2 linked regions of the Homo sapiens genome follow. The protein of the gene in region 1 purifies or fractionates together with the protein of each later gene. This does not show direct contact. Each region holds a gene or a part of one and is shown on either strand. Other genes may lie near its edges. The genes, in order: GCDH and ISCA1.

The links.
Region 2: the proteins of GCDH (region 1) and ISCA1 purify together in Homo sapiens (affinity purification with mass spectrometry; 2 studies listed by BioGRID and IntAct, with this or other methods). This does not show direct contact.

The regions. Positions count from the first base shown.
Region 1 is NC_000019.10:12,893,921-12,900,499, forward strand, and holds the end of GCDH (glutaryl-CoA dehydrogenase, mitochondrial isoform a precursor), read left to right. Parts: intron 1-173; exon of another isoform or gene 174-991; intron 992-2,071; coding exon 2,072-2,201; intron 2,202-2,284; coding exon 2,285-2,501; intron 2,502-2,989; coding exon 2,990-3,093; intron 3,094-3,382; coding exon 3,383-3,508; intron 3,509-3,782; coding exon 3,783-3,943; intron 3,944-4,865; exon of another isoform or gene 4,866-5,420; coding exon of another isoform or gene 5,421-5,465; intron 5,466-5,547; coding exon 5,548-5,621; 3' UTR 5,622-5,779; coding exon of another isoform or gene 5,780-5,823; 3' UTR 5,824-6,079; downstream 6,080-6,579. Other genes in the region: SYCE2 (synaptonemal complex central element protein 2), read right to left, coding at 5,421-5,465, 6,084-6,200, 6,540-6,579. UniProt on the Homo sapiens protein: Catalyzes the oxidative decarboxylation of glutaryl-CoA to crotonyl-CoA and CO(2) in the degradative pathway of L-lysine, L-hydroxylysine, and L-tryptophan metabolism. It uses electron transfer flavoprotein as its electron acceptor. Isoform Short is inactive.
Region 2 is NC_000009.12:86,265,539-86,281,758, reverse strand, and holds part of ISCA1 (iron-sulfur cluster assembly 1 homolog, mitochondrial precursor), read left to right. Parts: intron 1-305; exon of another isoform or gene 306-3,542; intron 3,543-7,516; coding exon 7,517-7,570; intron 7,571-9,646; coding exon 9,647-9,752; intron 9,753-15,567; coding exon 15,568-15,716; 3' UTR 15,717-16,220. UniProt on the Homo sapiens protein: Involved in the maturation of mitochondrial 4Fe-4S proteins functioning late in the iron-sulfur cluster assembly pathway. Probably involved in the binding of an intermediate of Fe/S cluster assembly.

The sequences.
Region 1 (6,579 bases):
CCATTTGCAGTGGCTCACACCTATAATCCCAGCACTTTGGGAGGGTGAAGTGAGAAGATCCCTTGAGCCCAAGAGTTCGAAACCAGCCTGGGCAACGTAAGGAGACCCCATGTCTATTAGAAAAACAAAAAAAGGAAAGAGCCTATGTGACCTGCGCTAAGTGGACGTTGGCCCTCTTCCGTGGTGTCTCGGAGGTGTTCAGCTGCTTCAAGATGAAGCTGAACATCTCCTTCCCAGCCACTGGCTGCCAGAAACTCATTGAAGTGGACGATGAACGCAAACTTTGTACTTTTTATGAGAAGCGTATGGCCACAGAAGTTGCTGTTGACGCTCTGGGTGAAGAATGGAAGGGTTACGTGGTCGGAATCAGTGGTGGGAACAATAAACAAGGTTTCCCCTTGAAACAGGGTGTCTTGACCCATGGCCGTGTCCACTTGCTACTGAGTAAGGGGCATTCCTATTACAGACCAAGGAGAACTGGAGAAAGAAAGAGAAGATCAGTTCATGGTTGCATCGTGGATGCCAATCTGAGTGTTCTCAACTTGGTTATTGTAAAAAAAAGGAGAGAAGGGTATTCCTGGACTGACTGAGACTATGATGCCTCGTCACCTGGGGCCCAGTACAGCTAGCAGAATCCGTAAACTTTTCAGTCTCTCTAAAGAAAATGATGTCTGCCAGTATGTTGTAAAAAAGCCCTTAAACAAAGAAGGTAAGAAACCTAGGACCAAAGCACCCAAGATTCAGCGCCTTGTCACTCCACATGTCCTGCAGCACAAACAGCGGCGTATTGCTCTGAAGCAGCCGCATATTAAGAAAAATAAAGAAGAGGCTGCAGAATATGCTAAACTTTTGGCCAAGAGAATGAAGGAGGCTAAGAAGCACCAGGGACAAATCGTGAAGAGACGCAGACTGTCCTCTCTGCGAGCTTCCACTTCTAAGTCTGAATCCAGTCAGAAATAAGATTTTTTGAGTAACAAATAAGATCAGATTCGCAAAAAAAAAAAAAAACCCACAAGGCCCTGTGTGACCAGGCCTCTGCTGACCTTTCCACCTCATCTCTGGCCACTCATGTGATCCTCCCAGCCAGACTTAGCTACTTGAAATTCTCCAGAAGTACCACCAGTTCTTTACACATCTGTTCCCTCTCCCAGCACTGCTCTTCCCCACAGCCTCCTCCTGCTTAACTCCTCACACCCTTCCAGTTTGGCCAACTCCTTCCTGATTCCCTGGGTCCCCCTCCCCATCTTGGCATTGTGATCATGACTTTGGGGTAACCTGTCTCTTGAAAGCAGGGCCAGATCTAACTTAGTTATGAGGTCTGACTCAGGGGCGAGGGTAATTTTTTTTTTCTTTTTTTGAGACAAAGTCCCGCTCCGTCCCCCAGGCTGAAGTGCAGTGGTACAATCTTGGCTCACTGCAACCTGCGGTTCCCCAGTTCAAGCAATTCCTGTGCCTCGGCCTCCCAATTAGCTGGGATTGCAGGTGCTTGCTACCCGTGCCTGGCTAATTTTTGTATTTTTAGTAGAGATGGTGTTTCACTATGTTGGCCAGGCTGGTCTCGAACTCCAGACCTCAAGTGATCCATCTGCCTTGGCCTCCCAAAGTGCTGAGATTACATGTGTGAGCCACCTCGACTGGCCTAATTTTTTGTATTTTTAGTAGAGATGGGGTTTCACCATATTGGTCAGGCTGGATTTTTTTTCTTTTTTGAGATGGAGTCTTGCTCTGTTGCCCAGGCTGTAGTGCAGTGGCATGATCTTGGCTCACTGCAACCTCTCCTGCCCGGGTTCAAGCGATTCTCCTGCCTCAGTCTCCTGAGTAGCTGGGATTACAGGCACCCACCACCACATCTGGCTATTTTTTTTTTTTTTTTTTTTTAAGTAGAGATGGGGTTTCACCATGTTGGCCAGGCTGGTCTGGAACTCCTGACCTCAATTGATCCACCTGCCTTGGCCTCCTAAAGTGCTGGGATGACAGGCGTGAGCCACTGCACCCCGCCACGAGGATAATTTTTGAGTAAGGGGATGTATCAGGGACCAGGCAGCCTTGTGACTTTGTCTTGTGCCTGCAGCCAAGGGGGAGCTCCTGGGCTGCTTCGGGCTCACAGAGCCCAACAGCGGAAGTGACCCCAGCAGCATGGAGACCAGAGCCCACTACAACTCATCCAACAAGAGCTACACCCTCAATGGGACCAAGACCTGGTAAGGGTTCTGGGTGGTGGGCAGGTGGTGAACAGGGGCAAAGGGGCACTGGTCAGACCCCTCACCGACTGTTCCATCCCCAGGATCACGAACTCGCCTATGGCCGATCTGTTTGTAGTGTGGGCTCGGTGTGAAGATGGCTGCATTCGGGGCTTCCTGCTGGAGAAGGGGATGCGGGGTCTCTCGGCCCCCAGGATCCAGGGCAAGTTCTCGCTGCGGGCCTCAGCCACAGGCATGATCATCATGGACGGTGTGGAGGTGCCAGAGGAGAATGTGCTCCCTGGTGCATCCAGCCTGGGGGTAAGTGGCAGCCACTTTGGGAATGGGTGTTGGGTCACCTGCGGATGCGGCTTTGTCAGGCAGGCTCCGTGCTGGGGACGCGGCTCCCTGTGCCTGTGGAGCCCACACAGTGGTGATTCTTACTCAGCCGGACTCGCTGACGTGCTGAAAACTGCCCCCATTTGGTGACCGTCTCGCTCATCCCGGCTCTGCCCGGGACACATGGGCCTGAACCAGCTCAGTCATTTGACTCACAGTGCATCTTCTGGCATCCGTCAGCCTCCTGGCTCTGAGCATCGAACCCAGATGCCAGGCTGGGTGGGACTGTGTGCAAACCGAGTGAGCAGGCACCGAGCTTCAGTGCCAGGGCCATCTGTGATGTGAACCACAACCTGAGTCCCCCTGCGTGGGGTGGCTGGGGAGGAGGCTTTCCCTGCTTCAGAGTTGGTTCTGCATAGGCCCTCTTGGTGTCTCTTGGGTGGGCCTGAGGCGCCATCTCAACCCTACAGGGTCCCTTCGGCTGCCTGAACAACGCCCGGTACGGCATCGCGTGGGGCGTGCTTGGAGCTTCGGAGTTCTGCTTGCACACAGCCCGGCAGTACGCCCTCGACAGGTGTGTGAGGGCTGCAGTGAGATTCTCTGGGGGTGTGGGGCAGCTTGGGTTTCACTCTCTATACCATGGGTGACTCCCCAGCCCCCACCCACCAGGCCTGAGTTCCTTGCTCTGGAATGACCAGTGACGTCCTTCTGAGCAGCTGTGGGCTGAGTCAACGGCAGGGCCAGGGCAAGCTTGGGGGCACTGAGGCAGCCTGGGAAGGCGTCCTGGAGCAGGGGGCCCCAGGACAGGGACGGGGTGGGAGAGTGGGCCTCCCCTCGCTCTTACCCTGCCATTGCCCATGTAGGATGCAGTTTGGTGTCCCACTGGCCAGGAACCAGCTGATTCAGAAGAAGCTGGCAGACATGCTCACTGAGATTACCCTGGGCCTTCACGCCTGCCTGCAGCTCGGCCGCTTGAAGGACCAGGACAAGTAGGGGCTGTGTGGTGGGGGCGGGGGGATGGCAGCGGTGGCTGGAGGACCTTGTGTCCTTCCTGGAGAGAAAGGTCCTTCCTGCCTGGTGGCCCTGGGGACCTGAACCTTCTGCTGTCCCTCTTGTCCTTGATGGGCTGGGCTGAGGACAGCCCCACTGGTCCCTCATTGGGAGCTTGGCTGCATCAGGGAATCCCCACCCCGGGCTAGGTTTGCTTGGAGCATCGGGATGCCAGGATCCCCAGTCCTTGTTACCCTCATGTGCCACTCCCAGGGCTGCCCCCGAGATGGTTTCTCTGCTGAAGAGGAATAACTGTGGGAAAGCCCTGGACATCGCCCGCCAGGCCCGAGACATGCTGGGGGGGAATGGGATTTCTGACGAGTATCACGTGATCCGGCACGCCATGAACCTGGAGGCCGTGAACACCTACGAAGGTAGGAGCTGGACCTCAGAGGGCTCACTGAGGCCTCAGTGTCTGGGGAGGGGGTACAGGGAGGTGGGACGGGGACAGGTCTGAGTCCAACTCCACCTATCACTAAGTGACAGTGTGACCTGGGGCGAGCCTTACCCCTCTGTCCCTCATCTGGAGTTACTCACATGGGGACTGTGGAAGTGAAGTGCTTCATGCAGCACACAGAGGCCCCATCAGGCCTTGCGAGGGGCTCCCAGCTCTTTCTCCCACATGCTCGGGAGGAGGGATGTTCCTGAGACAGGTAAGCTCCGAAGGCAGCCCAGGGGTGAGGCCCGACTCCTAGCAGGCTGGTGGACGCAAGGGAGTGAGCGAAGCTACACGCAGGAATCAACGCTCCATTTTGTTAAGAGACAAAAGTCATCTTCAGATGACGGTGTTTGCACCCTGTAACTGATGGTGATTTACATGGGGGTCCAGAACCCCTTGCTTGGTGGGAAGACAGATGTGGAAAAAGATACTTAAAAAAAAAAAAAAAGTGCAAACCCAGCATGCGCTATGTAGAAATAGAGGGAGGTATGAGGACCCCCCGGGCAGAGATGCTTCCAGACAGAGAGAACAGCAAATGCAGGAGGGGTGCCTTCCCTGCGCACCTTGCAACCCCAGATCTTGTCTCTATCTGGCATCTGGGGGGTGGGGGGATCCTACAAATGTGAGAATGACCCTGAGGACAAGCAGCGGGCGCCATGAGATGGTTTTATGCAGAGAAGGGATGAGTCAGATTTGGTGCTTTAGGGGCTCGGCGCAGTGGCTCACACCTGTAATCCCAGCGCTTTGGGAGGCTAAGGCAGGAGGATTGCTTGAGCCCAGGAGTTAGAAGTTATGATGAGCTATGATCACCCCACTGCACTCCAGCCTGGGTGACAGAGTGAGACCCTATCTATATTTAAAAAAAATAGGTTTGTACTTTAGGAAGTAAACAGAATTGGCTCTAAAAAGGAGGCTACAATCTGCCTTCTGCTTCAAGGAGCTGGGGAGGAGCAAAGGATGAGACACCAGGGCATGGGGTGTGGGATTCTCTGGGAGAGGCGGCTTCAGATGGGCAGAGGTCAGCTGAGGCAAGTGACTGCTCTTCCGATGTGCTGTCCCTCCTATCCCTCCCGAGGGTAAGAAAGGGCTTGCTGTGTTTCCTTGGAGCTCAGGGGTGCTTTCAGCCTCTGTGGCAAGGAAGCGTGGCCAGGTTGAAAATCAAACATTTAATAAACTGTGGGGCTGGGGGTGGGGAGAACTTGCCAAGGGTGGGGAGCACGAAGCCTGGGCCTATGGCAGGGGCTGGACTTGCTACATTTTGGGAGTTCAGCACAAGGAGCTTTGGGTTTTTGTTTTTTTCTGCCAAGATGCATTATAGAACCATGAAAAACAATTTCTCAGTGTGGCCCAAATGGTGGCCTCACAGTCTTCTCCTGGAGACTGTCACTAAGGCGTGAGTCTCCCGGCAGCTGTCAGCATTCACCATCTCTGTTGGTCTGTACTTCTGAAGCAGTGGCCTGGGGATACATGAAAATTGATTTTAAAGGGAAGTTGTGAGCTATGAAAACTCCAAACCGACTCTGTATTAATCTTGTCCAGGTACACATGACATTCACGCCCTGATCCTTGGGAGAGCTATCACGGGAATCCAGGCGTTCACGGCCAGCAAGTGAGCCGCTCCATCAGGGGCCCGAAACTCTCAAGCCCCTTTCTGGAGAGATGCCTGGCTGGACCGTAGGAGCGCTGTGCTCTGAGCTTAGAAAGGGAGGTGGCGGATGGAGTGGGAAGTGAGAGACACTGATTTTTAAATATCAAAATTTCCCTTCTGAAGTCGTTCAGATGTGTTCCTTAAAAAGAAGATGGAATTCTCTGTAGAGCGTCTCAATCCACTTTTAACCATGGATGAGAGCAGACTCCATTTACCCTGAAATAGCAGCTTCTCTTGAGAGGAGAGTGACATGGAAGCAACTCCGTCTGCTGCAGCTGACCCCCTCACACTGAGTTCACAGTGCGCCCTCCCTCCCTCCCATCTGGGGGTAGTGCCTTATGCTGGGTGTTGGAGCAGAGTGAGGGAGAGGAAAATAAAGACCTGCACATCTGACCCCAAGGTGTCAGGCCGGTTTACTGGTAACCACCTGAGAAGTAGTTTCAGCCACAGAAGAAACGAACACGTCTGGGGGCTGTGAGTTGCCGGGACGTGGTGGGGACTTTCCCCTAGAGTGGTCTGGCCCCCATCTGAGTCTTAGGCTCTGCTGTAAAAAAGAAACCCAGGTTAGCAGTGCCGGTCTGTGCCAGGGCTGTGGGCAGAGGGGATGATTTCTGAGTGGCAGGGGTGCAAGGGACTTTGTCCTTTCTGTCACCACAGAGCTGCTCATACAACAGTGGGACATGACAACGGTTTGGCTTCTCAGCTCAGACACACCATGTTATAGGGGATCACAAACAAGATGGTGAGTGCACCAAGGGCTTTGCAGGGACTGTGGCCTGGCGGGGTCAGGGCTGGGTGCCTGGTTTCTGTTCACATTTACTCTTGGCTGGGCCATCCCTGTCCTCTTCCTCAGGCAGCGCCCCCCCTGTGAGTTTACTCATACCTCAGGCTGGAGACACAGGTCTTTGTACACAGTCTCCACG
Region 2 (16,220 bases), on another chromosome or scaffold:
AAGATGATTTCCCAGAGTGAGTTTACAGCCTTTTCTGGGTGAAAGGTCAAACACTCAGAGGGCACCAGAGTGCAACCATTGATTACTTAGAGAATTCACTGAGCTCAGTGTTCCGGCCGCACCGTTCAGTTTTTTAGTGGAAGGAAAATCCACATAACATAAAATTAGTCCTTTTAAAGGGTACAATTCAGTGCCATTTAAGACATTCACAGTGTCGTGCAACCATCACCTCTATCTAGTTCCAAAATACTTTCACCCCAAAAGAAAAATTTATGATCACGTTCCTACATACACTCCCCTTTTAGTGAAGGAGACGACTTTATGCAACCATTCGCTTAGAGACTGGGAAAAAAAACGATTTAAATTGACTCATCGATTCTGTTGCATCTAATGCCAAAAGGGCCTATTACCAGAAAATAAGTTTGTAGCAAAGTAGAAGAAAATTGTGATCAGGTGAGAGAATTTATTTTTATAATCAATTTTTTAGGCCTTTGATATTACCCTGATTATATATGGTACTACTAGTGTACTGATTATGTATCATTCTATATTACCTCTTTTCTGTAGGAGCAAGCTTATTTTCATACACCGTGGGATGTAGAATTAAACAAGGTTTTAAGAACTAGAGGGCACAACTCATTCTTTGTGTCTCTTTCAATCTCAGTAAGAATTATTCAGAATTCTTCCACTGGTAATGGTAGATCCAGGAAGAGCCAGAAGGTTCAGGAACAGTTTTTGCCTTTTCTTTTTTGCTTTTTAGCAACCCTATTAACTGGGTTTTTTGTTTTTTGTTTTTTGTTTGTTTGTTTGTTTTTGTTTGTTTTGTTTTTGGAGACAGGGTCTCACTCTATCTCCCAGGCTGTAGTTCAGTGGTGCAATCATGGCACACTGCAGCGTCAACCTCCTGGGCCCAAGCGATCCTCCCACCTCAGGCTCCCAAGTCGCTGGGACCACCGGTGTGCACCGTCATGCATGCACCTAGGGTCTCCCTGGGTTGCCCAGGCTGGTCTCGAACTCCTGGGCTCAAGCAGTCCACTGCCTCAGGCTCCCAGTGTGCAGGGATTACAGGTGTGAGCCACCATGCCTGGTCCCTGATGTCTTTCTCCATCACCATTTGACATGTTACCTCTTCCTTCAGAATTTCTTTTTTTTTTTTTTTTTTTTGAGACAGGGTTTCGCTGGGTTGCCCAGGCTGGAGTGCAGTGGCGTGATCTCAGCTCACTGCAGCCTCTGCCTACTGAGTTCAAGCAACTCTCTGCCTCAGCCTCCTGAGTAGCTGGGATTACAGACGCCCACCACCATGCCCAGCTTATTTATTTATTTATTTTTGTATTTTTAGTAGAGATGGGGTTTCACCATCTTCACCAGGCTGGTCTTGGACTCCTGACCTCGTGATCCACTCGTCTCAGCCTCCCAAAGTGCTGGGATCACAGGCATGAGCCACCGTGCCTTGCCCTTCCTTCAGAATTTCTATGTCAGTCCCTTTCTCTCCATTCCTAGTCATTCAGCAGACATTTATCAAGATCTGCTGTGTTTCAAGACAAATGAATGAGTTATACAGTTCCCAGCCTACGGGGCACAGTCGCAGGCCAAGCCTTTGCCACCTCTTACTAGGAGTAATAGCACTGCACATTCTCAGGCTTGGTCTCTCTCCACACTTGCTCCCCTCTGCTTCAGTACATGTTATCATAGCAGTTCTCAAGGTATCCATGTTGCCTGACTCAGCTGTTTTGATTAACTTGCAGGAGTCTACTGTCTGTACTCTGTTGTCCTACTTAAGTATGGCTGACTTTAGAAGCTTCTCAGAAGCTGTACCAGAGAGAAGGCACATCAATGCTGTTTTCCACACAGCCTGTGTTGGTGGGCTTGCAGTCATTTTAGTTCCAGCATTCGTGCCCTAGTCAGGACACTATGGCATGTATTGCTCTTTGTGCTTAGTTTATCATCAGCATGTATCGTCAAGTGCAAAAGTAGTGATGCCGTCAAAGGCCTAATGAATGGAGACAGATAAGAGAGCAAACAAAAGTATACGTAATTCAGTAAAACTGATTGGAAGAGGTAAATGTTACTTGGGTCTAATAAGTAGAGACAGATAAGAGCAAACACAAGTATACCTAATTCAGTAAAACTGATTGGAAGGGATAAATGTTACCTGGATATATAAATTTTGATGTTAGGAATTTGACATGTTGCAACATTTGAAAAGTGCTATATGTGTGGAGTCTACCAGATGTCAACAAAAGGCTAGGAAAAGTAACTGATAATATAACACAGTTCAATGCTGTCATTATCAGATTATCTACATCTTCCCTATTTCCCTACATATCTAGAAATTGACAAGTGGAATTGAACTTGCAGGAGCCAGATGTGATTAAAGAATCTGAAGAGTAAATAGTGCCCTGCTTGCAGACAGATTTATTTCCATCATTGTACAAGTCAGAGCAACTCTAATTTGTAGGACTGGGGTGGATCACAGCTGTGCATTAAAACTCAACCAAGTTCTATGAGAGAATGATGGTGCACAGCCACTATCATTCTTGATGAATTCATTGTGTACGGAAGGTGCCTTAGGGCTTAACTTTCTATTGGAGTCCAGTTGAGAAGCTAGGAAATGCTTAATGCTCAGTAAGGAACTGTGTGTTAGTTCATTGGACTAGAACCAGAAGTCCTTTTGAACAGTGACCAAGCACTAAGATTTCTATACGAAGGCAGTTTAGGAAATACTACACAAGAAGCACTGGAAGTAGCCTAGCAGTCTAACAGTGAAAGAACGGTTAAGTACGTGAGAGTAGATCCTGTTGGTGAAGGATGTAGTCATTGTAAATTATGGTTTTTTTTAAGTTTCAGCGTTATAAATCTTCATTCTTTGACTTATGCTGTGCAAATTATTTAATCTTTAATACCTAAATCACAATGGCAGGAATAAAAAGATGTTACGTTTAAACCATTAAACACTTAGAAGGTGCTCAGTAAATGGTGAATATATGTTTATTACCATGTATCAAATGAAAAAATAATTTGTTAAATTGTTTCAATGGAGGCTGCAAAATTATGTATATATGCCATGATTACAAACCTTTTTCTTTTTAGAGACAGGATCTTCCTCTGTCACCCAGGCTCATATGCAGTGGCATGATCATGGCTTACTGCAGCTTCAAACTCCTGGGCTCAAGCAATCCTTTCACCTCAGCCTCCCAAGTAACTGGGACTACAGGCACATGTCACCTTGACTGCTAATTTTTTTTTTTTAATTTATTGTAGAGACAGGGTCTTGCTCTGTTGCACAGGCTGGTCTCAAACTCCTGGCCTCAAGCCGTCCTCCCACCTTGGCCTCCCAAAGTGCTGGCATTACAGGCATGAGCCACCACACCTGGCCTACAAATATATATTTGTATATTATATGTATTTTGGATGTGTATATACACATATACACAAATAAGAAAAGACAAAAGAGAATGCTTTTGTCTTTTCTTATTTTGACACTCTAATGCCAGCCATGGCTGTTAAAGAATGATTTTAATAAAATACACTGTACTTGTTCACTGGCTCTATTTATTTACCATCTTTTGTTCCCCCAGAAAATTGATATGTTGACATTAAAATGCCATGTTTGTAGAGAAATTAAGTTGTAGTTGTTGGCACATGTTTAGTATGCATAATCACAGAGTTAACTTTAGCTTTGAATTTAATTTAATTTTCTTAAACAGCAAAAAATGAAAATTGCCTGGGGAGTTACTTAAAGAAATACAGGATTGAGAATGAAAAGTTTCTCCTACAAGGATTAGAAAGCGTGTTGCTATGAAGTAGTGATAAAACATTCATCTACAATGCCTTTTCCCTTAATTTTAACAGCGGAAACATCTTGGAAATATATTTATTTTTCAATTAGGCCAAAATACCTTACCTCAAAGATAACCTCTCACTTTAAAAGTCATATTCCTGTGATTTGCATGTGAGTAAAAACCATCATATTTTAGTGGGCTTCAGGAAGCTCTTAAATTTTAAAACATGGGCCAAATCTCAGGTAAGCTATATTCATTAATAGTACATAAATTTCTTGAGAATTACATGTTTCTTAGTTGTTCTGGGAAGTGCACTGGTACTGGCAGGCTGCTAGGCCCTGCAGCATGCTGTGTAGTTGAAGATTTTATGCTGTTTCTCACATGAATTTTACCTAAGCACAAAGTTGCCAGAGTATGTAGACTTAAAGCAGGGTAGGATTCTTAGCCTCTCCCTGGTACTGAGACACAAAAAGTACCTCTTATAGCTCGATTTTTTTTAAGTCCCAACTCTTCCCTTTTAACCACTCTCCCTTGTTCTGAAAATCAGATCAGTCACTTTGAAAGTTCTAAGAACCTTTTCCCTTGGTTGAGTACTGACCTGGGTTGTCCATCATTAGTAACACCCTCCCAGTGGAGTAGGTTTGGTTTTGGCCTGGCACAGGAAAATTAAGACATATTTTAGTTCCTGTAACAGCAGCTTCCCAGGCACACAGGTTCCTGTTGAATGTTACTTTTCCCTTAAAGAGTCCTTCAGTATGAGATGTGAACATCAGCAACTTGGTGATAAGTAGACCAATCCCCACGAATTGCTTTCATTTACTGTATTTAAGTGTTTCCTGCTAAAAGTTGAGAAAATAAGAAAATAGATGACTTTGTAAAACCAAATTAGATAATTTAGAAAACCACTTGGAGATAAAAAAAATTATATATTTGGGGCTGGTAAACGGAGTAGTGTGACAGACACATTTGTTTTGTTTAGATCATGCAGTGGTGTGCCCATCTGTGCCTTTGATCCACTCAGATTAAACCAAGACCACGTTTCAGATTTTAGTTCCCGCGGATATTTTCCATGGCTATGCCTTTTTTTTTTTTTTTTTTTTTTTTTTGAGACAGAGTCTCACTCTGTTTCCCAGGCTGGAGTGCAGTGGCATGATCTCGGCTTACTGCAGCCTCCGCCTCCTGGGTTCAAGCGATTCTCATGCGTCAGCCTCCGGAGTAGCTGGGATTACAGGCGCATGCCATCATCCTCAGCTAATGTTTGTATTTTTAATAGAGACGGGGTTTCACCATGTTGGCCAGGCTGGTCTCAAACTCCTGACTTCAAGTGATCCTTCCACCTTGGCTGACCTCAAGTGATACTTCCACCTCGGCCTCCCAAAGTGTTGGGAATATAGGCATGAGGCACCAGGCCCAGCCAGGCTATGCCTTTTTAAAATAAACTTACAGAAAGCTATTTTTATTTGACAGTAAGTGATTAATTTCTTCAGCATGCACATAGGAAAATATGGTGAAAATTTACATGTGGTTGATAAGAAAGCTAGCTTTTATTGACAATCACTTAGAACAGGGGTCCCCAGTCCCTGCGCTACAGACTGGTACTGGTCCATGGCCTGTTAGGAACAGGGCCTCACAGCAGGAGGTGAGAGCAGCAGGCAAGCCAAGCATTACCACCTAAGCGAGCTCCACCTCCTGTCAGATCATCAGGGGCATTAGATTCTCATAGGAGCACAAACCCTAGTCTGAACTGCAGGTGTGAGGGGCTAGTTTGTGCACTCCTTATGAGAATGATGCCTGATGATCTGTCACTGTCTCTCATCACCCCTAGATGGGGCCATCTAGTTGCAGAAAAACAAGCTCAGGGCTCCCACTGATTGTATATTTTGATGAGTTATATAATTATTTCATTATATATTACAATGTAATAATAGAAATAAAGTGCACAATAAATGTAATGCATTTGAATCATTCAGAAACCATTCCCCTTATCCGTGGAAAAATTGTCTTCCACGAAACCAGTCCTTGATGCCAAAAACATTTGGGACCACTGCTTTAGAAGGGTAATGAGCACTTTAAAAAATAATAACTATTTCTGTAACTATTTAAAGTTGGTATTCTGTGACTCAAAAAACAAAAACAAAACCATAATCCTGCTCTTCCCTGTTTTCTCCTTCCACCCTGTGTGCTACTTCCTGCGTTGGAGGACTGCATGCCTCCTTTTCTGACAGAACCATGGGAAACCATGGGCCTTTAGAGGCCCACCTACTGGTAGTGGTTTGTTTTTTTACAGTGACATGTAATAAGAAATGTATATACACAGATACTATATATTAATAACTGAATTAAAAGTTTTACTAAACAACATTCACGTTTTTAAGTGCAGTGCATTGTTTTCTATTTAAAATGTTTAAGACATGTTGGTCTTCACATTCCAAATTGCTTTCATGCCCTTCTAAACTGGGTCTGTACTGTGTTTAAGCATGCTCATCTAGCTGAGCCCCAACCCCGACAGGGCAGGAGAGCACACTCTAGGGCCATCCATTGGGCTGGCTCTTCCAGGTGTCAGTCCTGGCCTCAGTTTACTACCAAGTCTTAGGTCGTAATATCCAGACTTTGAGACTTCACAAGCAGTCTCAAAGACTTTACTGTACAGTAAAATGTCAGTACAAGGGACTGGAGGGCCTGCAGAGCACTGCCAGCTAGAGGAGCTGATAAAGTAGGAAGGACGCACATAATGTCTTCATTATGATGTACTCTCATAATCATAATAATACTTGGTATTTTTGTGCCTGGCACTGTCCTGAATGCTTTCCATGAGTTTAAATATTTAATCCTCACAAGAATCAGGAGGAGGAGGAACTGTTATCCCTGTTTCACCAGTAAGGGAATAGAAGTCAGAGAAGCCACTTAGGGTGACTGCCCTGGAGGCACAGCTAGGAAGTGGGCCAGGAATGTCGGGGAACAGTCTCCTTCCCAAAGAAGTGGGGTTGGCAACACCGACCTATTTCACACAAACTGTGATGTTTTTCTCATTTTGAGGCCCGCTGAGCTATGTTAAAACAGCATTTCTCTGGGAAACAGCTCCTCCTTGTTCTTATTTCTGTCATTGACTAGCTTAGTTTTGTTCATCTAGATCTCCTGAGATGTTGGTTTAATCCACGTTGAAAAAAATCTATGTGAGCATTTGGTGGGACTGGTGCAAGAAGCACACCCTGGGTTATTTTATGCTGGTAACACTGTTTCCTCAAGCTATGCATTTTGATGGATTAGAAATGGATTGTGAGTAAGAAAAAAAAAAGCAGTAGGATTAATAATCAACAGGAAAAACACCTGAAGGTTGGCCTTCCCAGTGAGATACTTGATTCCTTCATTGGCTCTTTGTCGTAGGCAACATGCTGGTTCCTGGGCATAGAGTTGGTGCACAAAATAGATGCTGCCCAGAAAAATAGCATTTGTAATGTGAGTGAATAGCACCATAGAGAGAAGGACAGGGAACCAACCTGGACTGAGGAGCAAGATTAAAAGGATGTTGCTAGCAGATTTTTTTTTTAAATAAAGAGGATATTTTGAATTAGGTATAGTTTATGTGTTTCTATATAAAGTCCATAAGGTACCCTGGCAAGAATGGAACATAAATTTGTCACATGAATTTGCTAAAGACAGACTTACGAAGACTGATAAATATGAGGCTTTGAATAACAAGTTTTGTAGCTAAAAACATCATTTTCTTTTTTCAGACACCTTCAGCAGTAAACAAGATAAAACAACTTCTTAAAGATAAGCCTGAGCATGTAAGTAAAACCAGTTAATTATTCAGTAAAAAACTGAAGCTGCATTTTCAGAATGAATTTATCCCATGATATACAGTATTATTTCATTTAGGGGTTTTTATTTAAAATGTAAAATATACTCAGGATTTTTAAAAAATTCAAATAATACAAAAGGGTATTTAACTAAAAGGAAGTCATTCTTTCAACCTGACTCTTCGTCGTCATTCTTCCTTCCAAGAAGCAATCTCTTTGGTATCCTTCCAGGGATAATGTATACATTTGAAGCGGCTAGACCTGATTTTCTCAGCCTCCTCACAGTTGACACTTTAGGGCAGATTGTAGAATGTTTGACAGCATCTGTGGCCTCTGTCCATTAGATACCAGTAGTACCCCCTCTTTGCCTCAACCAAAGAATCCACATATGTGGAACCCACCGATACGGAGAGGTGACTGTATAGAGTAAAAGTATGGTGAGTACTATTTCACCAGCAGTTCCTGATTCCACAAAGCTTTGGTTGTCACAACCAAAAATGTCTCCCTGAGGGCAACCACTGGCCTAGACTGGGCTTGTTATTCCTGTGTATATCTCTTCCTACCATAAATTTTTTTGTTACACTTTGCTTTTTACCCTTAATAATGGCTTGAAGATCTTTCCATGTCATTATGTAATGATCTGCCTCCCTTTCTTGGCTGCATGTAGAGTATATTCCATTGAACAAGTTTGAGTTCTTTAACCAGTCCCCATATTAAAGGGTCGTTTTCATTCAGTGCTGCCGCAAACACCATTCAGCAACTATTTAGTGTCTGCAGTGTGCCAGGCTCATTGTTCTAGAACTGTAAGCATGGCTTAGTCCACCTACATAGGATCCATTCCTAGATACAGAATTGTTGAGTTAGGGATGTGTGTATCATCTTAATTGTACATTGTTAGTTGCCGATGGAATGCTGTAAATCATTTCAAGTAATGGATTGCAATATTTAATAATTAGACGGTGGGGTGATTTCTGGTTTCTGTTGTTAACCTACTACATTACAATGTAATGGAAGTTCTCAAACCTACCTTTTAAAATTATTAAATTTCAAAGGATATCAGTGTTCTGATTCAATTTGGATAGACCGATGAGTAGACTACAAATTGGCCTAATGAAACAAGAATTCGGCTTTGTAGAATCAGGAACTGCTGGTGAAATAGTACTTATGATACTTTTGCTGTATACAGTCACCTCTCCGTATCTGTGGGTTCCGCATACGTGGATTCAATCAACCATAGGTCAGAAATATTTGGGAAAAAAATAGAAGGTTGCATCTGTATTAAACATGTACAGACTTTCATTCTCTAAACAATACAGTATAACAACTGTTTATGTAGCATTACATTGTTACAGGTATTCAAGTCCTCCAGAAGTTATTTAAAGTACAGGGGAAGATGTATATAGGTTATATACAAATGCAGTGCCATTTGCATAAGGGACTTGAGTATCTGCAGATTTTTGTATACTCAGTTAGTCCTGGAACCAATTTCCCATGCATACTAAGGGATGACTGTATTTAAATGAAAAATCAGCTCAGCTCTAAGACAGAGAACTTAGGTAGATACTGTTTGAAAATTGCATTAATGTAAACATTGATACTTTTAAAGTGCTGTTTGGTCACTTTTTTAAACTTCTTTTGTCTGTATTGACTGCAGTCTTTTGCTTTCTGGTATTTGAGACTGTACACAAGTCTGCACTATAATTCAGATCCCATGTAGAGGTAGGATTGCCAGATGGTGGACTATGAACCCTGGTGAATCCTAACCATAAGGAAACATTCAGAGGATATCTCACAGAACAAGGTAGAGCAAAGACATTTTAAATAAAGTCCCAGGCTGGACGGGGTGGCTCCTGCCTTGTAATCCCAATGCTTTGAGAGGCCGAGGTGGAAGCGTTATTTGAGTCCACGAGTTTGAGACCAGTCTGGGCTACATAGTGAGACCCTGTCCTACAAAAAATAAGAGAAAGTCCATTTTGGTACGAGGAGGCTACTGTCACTTTATTAGTATAATTGTTTAATCTGTACTACTTTAAAACCAAGTTTATATTTTCACTTCTTTTTCAGGTAGGTGTAAAAGTTGGTGTCCGAACCAGGGGCTGTAATGGCCTTTCTTATACTCTAGAATATACAAAGACAAAAGGAGATTCTGATGAAGAAGTTATTCAAGATGGTGAGTTTTTAACAAACATTTTTTGGGCACATTGTTTTGCCTAAAATTATTAGCCTTGCACAGCACAAAGTAAAAAATAAGGATAGTAGCAGGAATTATGTAAATAATGCTCACTGTGTGTGTAGGTGTTGTTTGATGGAATTTCATGTATTAACTGATTTATACACAATGCTGAATGTGGGTGGTACCATATTATCCCTGTTTTTCTGATGAAGAAACTGAGGCACAGAGGGGTTAAATAGTTTAAGGTCATAATAAGTGGCCTAGTAAAATTCTTTCCAGAGACTGCTCTTAGTAACTAATTGATAAATTATTATATAAGCTTGTTTTAACTATGAAAGATCATCGTTGTGTCCAAAAAGTGAACCAGCCTTAAACCTCACAGTGAACCAACAGTTTTTGTGTAAGCAGTAGTTTTATATCTGTGTCAAATAAGTACGAGTTGAGCATTCCAATCCAAAAATCTGAAATCTGAAATGCTCCCAAATTCAAAACTTTAAAAGTGGGTGCTGACATGACACTCAGAGGAAATGCTCATTGGAGCTTTTTGGATTTGGGATGCTCAAGCAGTAAGTATAATGCAGATACAGTCATACATCACTTAACATTGGAGATACATTCTGAGAAATGTGACGTTAGACAAATATCCTGGGGTGTACTTAGACAAACCTAGACGGTCTGAGAAATGTGACATTGGACAAATATCCTGGGGTGTACTTACACAAACCTAGATGGTAGAGCCTACCATATGCCTCAGCTAGATAATATAACCTGTTGCTCCTAGGCTACAAACCTGTACTGCACGTGACTGTGCTGAATACTGTGCACAGTTCTGACACAATGGTAAGTATTTGTGTAAACGTACCTAAACAAAGAAAAAGTATAGTGAAATTTCTTTTATTATTATTATTATTATTATACTTTAAGTTTTAGGGTACATGTGCACAATGTGCAGCTTAGTTACATATGTATACATGTGCCATGCTGGTGTGCTGCACCCATTAACTCATCATTTAGCATTAGGTATATCTCCTAATGCTATCCCTCCCCCCTCCCCCCGCCCCACAACAGTCCCCAGAGTGTGATGTTCCCTTCCTGTGTCCATGTGTTCTCATTGTTCAATTCCCATCTATGAGTGAGAACATGTGGTGTTTGGTTTTTTGTCCTTGCGATAGTTTACTGAGAATGATGATTTCCAATTTCATCCATGTCCCTACAAAGGACATGAACTCATCATTTTTTATGGCTGCATAGTATTCCATGGTGTATATGTGCCACATTTTCTTAATCCAGTCTATCACTGTTGGACATTTGGGTTGGTTCCAAGTCTTTGCTATTGTGAATAGTGCCACAGTAAACATACGTGTGCATGTGTCTTTATAGCAGCATGATTTGTAGTCCTTTGGGTATATACCCAGTAATGGGATGGCTGGGTCAAATGGTATTTCTAGTTCTAGATCCCTGAGGAATCGCCACACTGACTTCCACAATGGTTGAACTAGTTTACAGTCCCACCACCAGTGTAAAAGTGTTCCTATTTCTCCACATCCTCTCCAGCACCTGTTGTTTCCTGACTTTTTAATGATTGCCATTCTAACTGGTGTGAGATGGTATCTCATTGTGGTTTTGATTTGCATTTCTCTGATGGCCAGTGATGACGAGCATTTTTTCATGTGTCTTTTGGCTGCATAAATGTCTTCTTTTGAGAAGTGTCTGTTCATGTCCTTTGCCCACTTTTTGATGGGGTTGTTTGTTTTTTTCTTGTAAATTTGTTTGAGTTCATTGTAGATTCTGGATATTAGCCCTTTGTCAGATGAGTAGGTTGTGAAAATTTTCTCCCATTTTGTAGGTTGCCTGTTCACTCTGATGGTAGTTTCTTTTGCTGTGCAGAAGCTCTTTAGTTTAATTAGATCCCATTTGTCAATTTTGGCTTCTGTTGCCATTGCTTTTGGTGTTTTAGACATGAAGTCCTTTCCCATGCCTATGTCCTGAATGGTAATGCCTAGGTTTTCTTCTAGGGTTTTTATGGTTTTAGGTCTAACGTTTAAGTCTTTAATCCATCTTGAATTAATTTTGGTATAAGGTGTAAGGAAGGGATCCACTTTCAGCTTTCTGCATATGGCTAGCCAGTTTTCCCAGCACCATTTATTAAATAGAGAATCCTTTCCCCATTGCTTGTTTTTGTCAGGTTTGTCAAAGATCAGATAGTTGTAGATATGCGGCGTTATTTCTGAGGGCTCTGTTCTGTTCCATTGATCTATATCTCTGTTTTGGTACCAGTACCATGCTGTTTTGGTTACTGTAGCCTTGTAGTATAGTTTGAAGTCAAGTAGCGTGATGCCTCCAGCTTTGTTCTTTTGGCTTAGGATTGACTTGGCGATGCGGGTTTTTTTTTTGGTTCCATATGAACTTTAAAGTAGTTTTTTCCAATTCTGTGAAGAAAGTCATTGGTAGCTTGATGGGGATGGCATTGAATCTATAAATTACCTTGGGCAGTATGGCCATTTTCACGATATTGATTCTTCCTACCCATGAGCATGGAATGTTCTTCCATTTGTTTGTATCCTTTTTTATTTCATTGAGCAGTGGTTTGTAGTTCTCCTTGAAGAGGTCCTTCACGTCCTTTTTAAGTTGGATTCCTAAGTATTTTATTCTCTTTGAAGCAATTGTGAATGGGAGTTCACTCATGATTTGACTCTCTGTTTGTCTGTTATTGGTGTATAAGAATGCTTGTGATTTTTGTGCATTGATTTTGTATCCTGAGACTTTGCTGAAGTTGCTTATCAGCTTAAGAAAATTTTGTAAAAGATCAAATGTGGTCGGGTGTGTTAACACAAGCCTGTTGTCCCAGCTACTCAGGAGACTGAGGCAGGAGGATTCCTTGAGTGTAGGAGTTCAAGAATGTAGTGCACTGGCCAGGCGTGGTGGCTCACCTGTGTAATCCCAGCACTTTGGGAGGCCGAGGTGGGTGGATCATGAGGTCAGGAGTTCACGACCAGCCTGGCCAACATGGTGAAACCCCATCTCTACTAAAAATACAAAAAATTAACTGGGTGTGGTGGCACACGCCTGTAGTCCCAGCTACTGGGAGGCTGAGGCAGGAGAATCGCTTGAACCCCAGGAGGCGGAGGTTGCAGTGAGCCGAGACCATGCCATTGCACTCCAACCTGGGTGAAAAAGTGAGACTCTGTCTCAAAAAAGAAAAAAAGACATCATAGTGCACTGTGTTCTTACCTGTGAATAGCCACTGCCCTTAAGCCTGGGCAACATAGCGAGACCTCCATCTCTTAAAAAAAAGAAAAAAAAAGGAAGAAGAAGAAGAAAATAAAACATGGTACACCTGTTTGTGGCAGTTACCATGCATGGAACTTGCAGGACTGGAAGTTGTCCGCGTGAGTCAGTGAGTGAGTAGGGAGTGATAAGTGAATGTGAAAGCCTAGGACGTTCCTCCGTAGTACTATAGACCTTATAAACCTTGTACACTTAGTCTTCAATAATAAATTAACCTTAGTTTACTGAAACTTTTTTACTTTGTAAGCTTTGGGGTTTTTTTTTTTTTTTTTGACTCTTTTGTGATAACATTAGCTTTGAAACACATTGTACAAATAACAAAAATTTTTTACGTTCTTATTCTATAAGCTTTTCTCTATTTTTAATTTTTTCTTTATAAACATTTTAATTAAAAACTAAGACAAAAACACACGTATTAACTTAGGCCTCCACAGGGTCAGGTTCATCAATATCCCTGTCTTCCACCACCTCCCCTCATCCCATTGGAAGGCCGTCAGGGGCAGTAACACTCATGGAGTTGTCATCTTCTGTGATAATGATGCCTTCTTCTGGATACCTCCTGAAGAACCTGCCTCAGGCTGTTTCACGGTTAACTTTTTTTTTTATAAGTAGAAGTACACTCTAAAATTTTAAACAATAAAAAGTATAGTAAATACATAAAGCAGTAACATAACCATTTATTATCATTATCAAGTATTATGTAGTGTACATAATTGAACATGCTTAGACTTTTATATGACTGGCAGTATAGGTTTGTTTACACCAGCATCACCACAAACACCTGAGTAATGGGTTGTCTTGTGATATTATGGTGGCTACAGCATTGCTAGGCAATGGGAATTTTCAGCTCCATTATAATCCTTTTTTTTTTTTTTTTTTTAATTTGAGATGGTCTCGCTCTCTCACCCAGGCTGGAGTGCAGTGGTGTGATCTCGGCTTGCTGCAACCTCCACCTCCCTGGTTCAAGCGATCCTCCCACCTCAGCCTCCCAAGTAGCTGGGATTATAGGCGCCCACCACCATGCCTGGTTCATTTTTGTATTTTTAGTGGAGCTGTATTATCAACTCATGTTTTTGAGGAATCCTGTATTTCCAATTTTTATTCAAAGCTATTTATTATAATTTAATTTATAATTAAAATTAATTATATTTGCTGCTGCCCCCTTCTTCCACCCTATAATCTGTTAAAACCTATCTAAAATAAATAATTTATCTTGTCATTGGAAGTATGCACTTAGCTTGCAGTTCTTACCTACATGGGAGAATGAGGCCTAGATTCCTAAGTGTGCTTTCTTATTAAACTAAAGTTATAACTATCAATAAAGACCTTTTAAAAATGTATTATTTTAAAAATTATAACACATTATAAACCTTAAGATTTTCATCTTAAAGAAGAGGTGACTTAATTATATATTGTTTATATTTAGCTAATGGCTCAATTTCTTGTAAGGAAGAAAGTTTTTTTGTTGTTTCGTTGTTTTGTTTGTTTGTTGAGACAGAGTCTTGCTCTCTTACCCAGGCTGGAGTGCAGTGGCACAATCATGGTTCACTGTAGCCTCTGTCTCCCGGGCTCAAGCAGTCCTCCCACCTCAGCCTCCCGAGTAGCTGGGACTACAGGTGCCCACCACTGTGCCCGGCTAATTTTTGTATTTTTAGTGGAGCCAGGGTTTTGCCCTGTTTCCCAGACTAGAAAGCTTTCTTAAATTGATTGTATTTGTTGGCTGGGCACTGTGGCTCACACCTGTAATCCCAGCACTTTGGGAGGCCGAGGTGGGAGGATCACTTGAGCCCAGGAATGCAAGACCAGCTTGGGCCACGTGGTGAAACCCTGACTCTAAAAAAATTAGTTGGTCCTGGTGGTATGTGCCTGTAATCCTGTGGGAGGATCGCTTGAGCCTGGGAGGTGGAGCTTGTGGTGAGCCATGATCATACCACTGCACTCCAGCCGGGGTGACAGAGTGAGACTCTGTCCAAAAAAAAAAAGATTGTATTTACAAAGATGCTGACCTCTACCTGTGTAATTACTAGGGAATAGTACCTGTTTTCCGTCCTGTAACCAGAAAAGACTATTGTTGTACTGATTGATGTTATTAAAATAGCCCCATTGTATCACAGTCCTTTGTACATCTTTAAGCTTGAATCCGTGTATCTAGTGTATTGCAGAATTTTCATAAATTTTTTTTTATTTCATAAAACTCATCGAGAATATACATTTTCTTCATGTTGCAAACTGGAAAAATGAGTGAAGTATAGTGAAAGGTAAATTCTAATTTTGCATAAAATTGTCATGGAATTTACTTGTATAAAATTCTCCCCTAATGTGATTGTGACATAAATTCATGTGTGGGAAAGAAGGGGCAGACAGGAAACTGAATGCTTAATTCCTTAAGGAAATAATTTAAAATGTTCAAGGCTTCTTGTTTGACTTTCATTGATAGTCACTATTTCAAGTTCACTTGTGCTTTGAATCAGCAAGTTCCATAAGGCTGCAGGCTTTCCATGACACATGTTTTCTTTTCTCCAAGGAGTCAGAGTATTCATCGAAAAGAAAGCACAGCTAACACTTTTAGGAACAGAAATGGACTATGTTGAAGACAAATTATCCAGTGAGTTTGTGTTCAATAACCCAAACATCAAAGGGACTTGTGGCTGTGGAGAAAGCTTTAATATTTGAAATCTCAGGACTCTTCTGGCCGTAGGTTCCAGGAAAGCTCGTGGAAGCTTTGGGGCTCACTGCAGAAATCATGTGACTGTCACGTGCTGGAAAATAAAGTGATACATCTTGAAAATGAATCCAGTGTGTTGGATTCCAGAAGAAATGATATTTATATTCTCTATAGGGGACAGAAAATGAGAAGCCATCACTCTTTTTGGATCATTTAGGTCTCTTGTATCCTTTGTTTTAGAACCAGTTTCATTAAAGTTGCCTTCCTGGGCACCTGTTTATCCATTTCCTGAACTGTGTGCACTCCTTAGATCGCTATTGATGGCTTGATCATCCCTCAGCATTTCTCCCAACCAGATCGGTGACTCCTAAAATCTGAGACAGGACATCGTGACTGCTGGTAGTAATATGGTGGTGCATTGTTTTTTCCACCCAAACTTAACATAGCCTTTTTATACATTTTTATGAAAAATTTCATTGTCAGCTGCCTCACTGCATACTCTTTAATAGTAC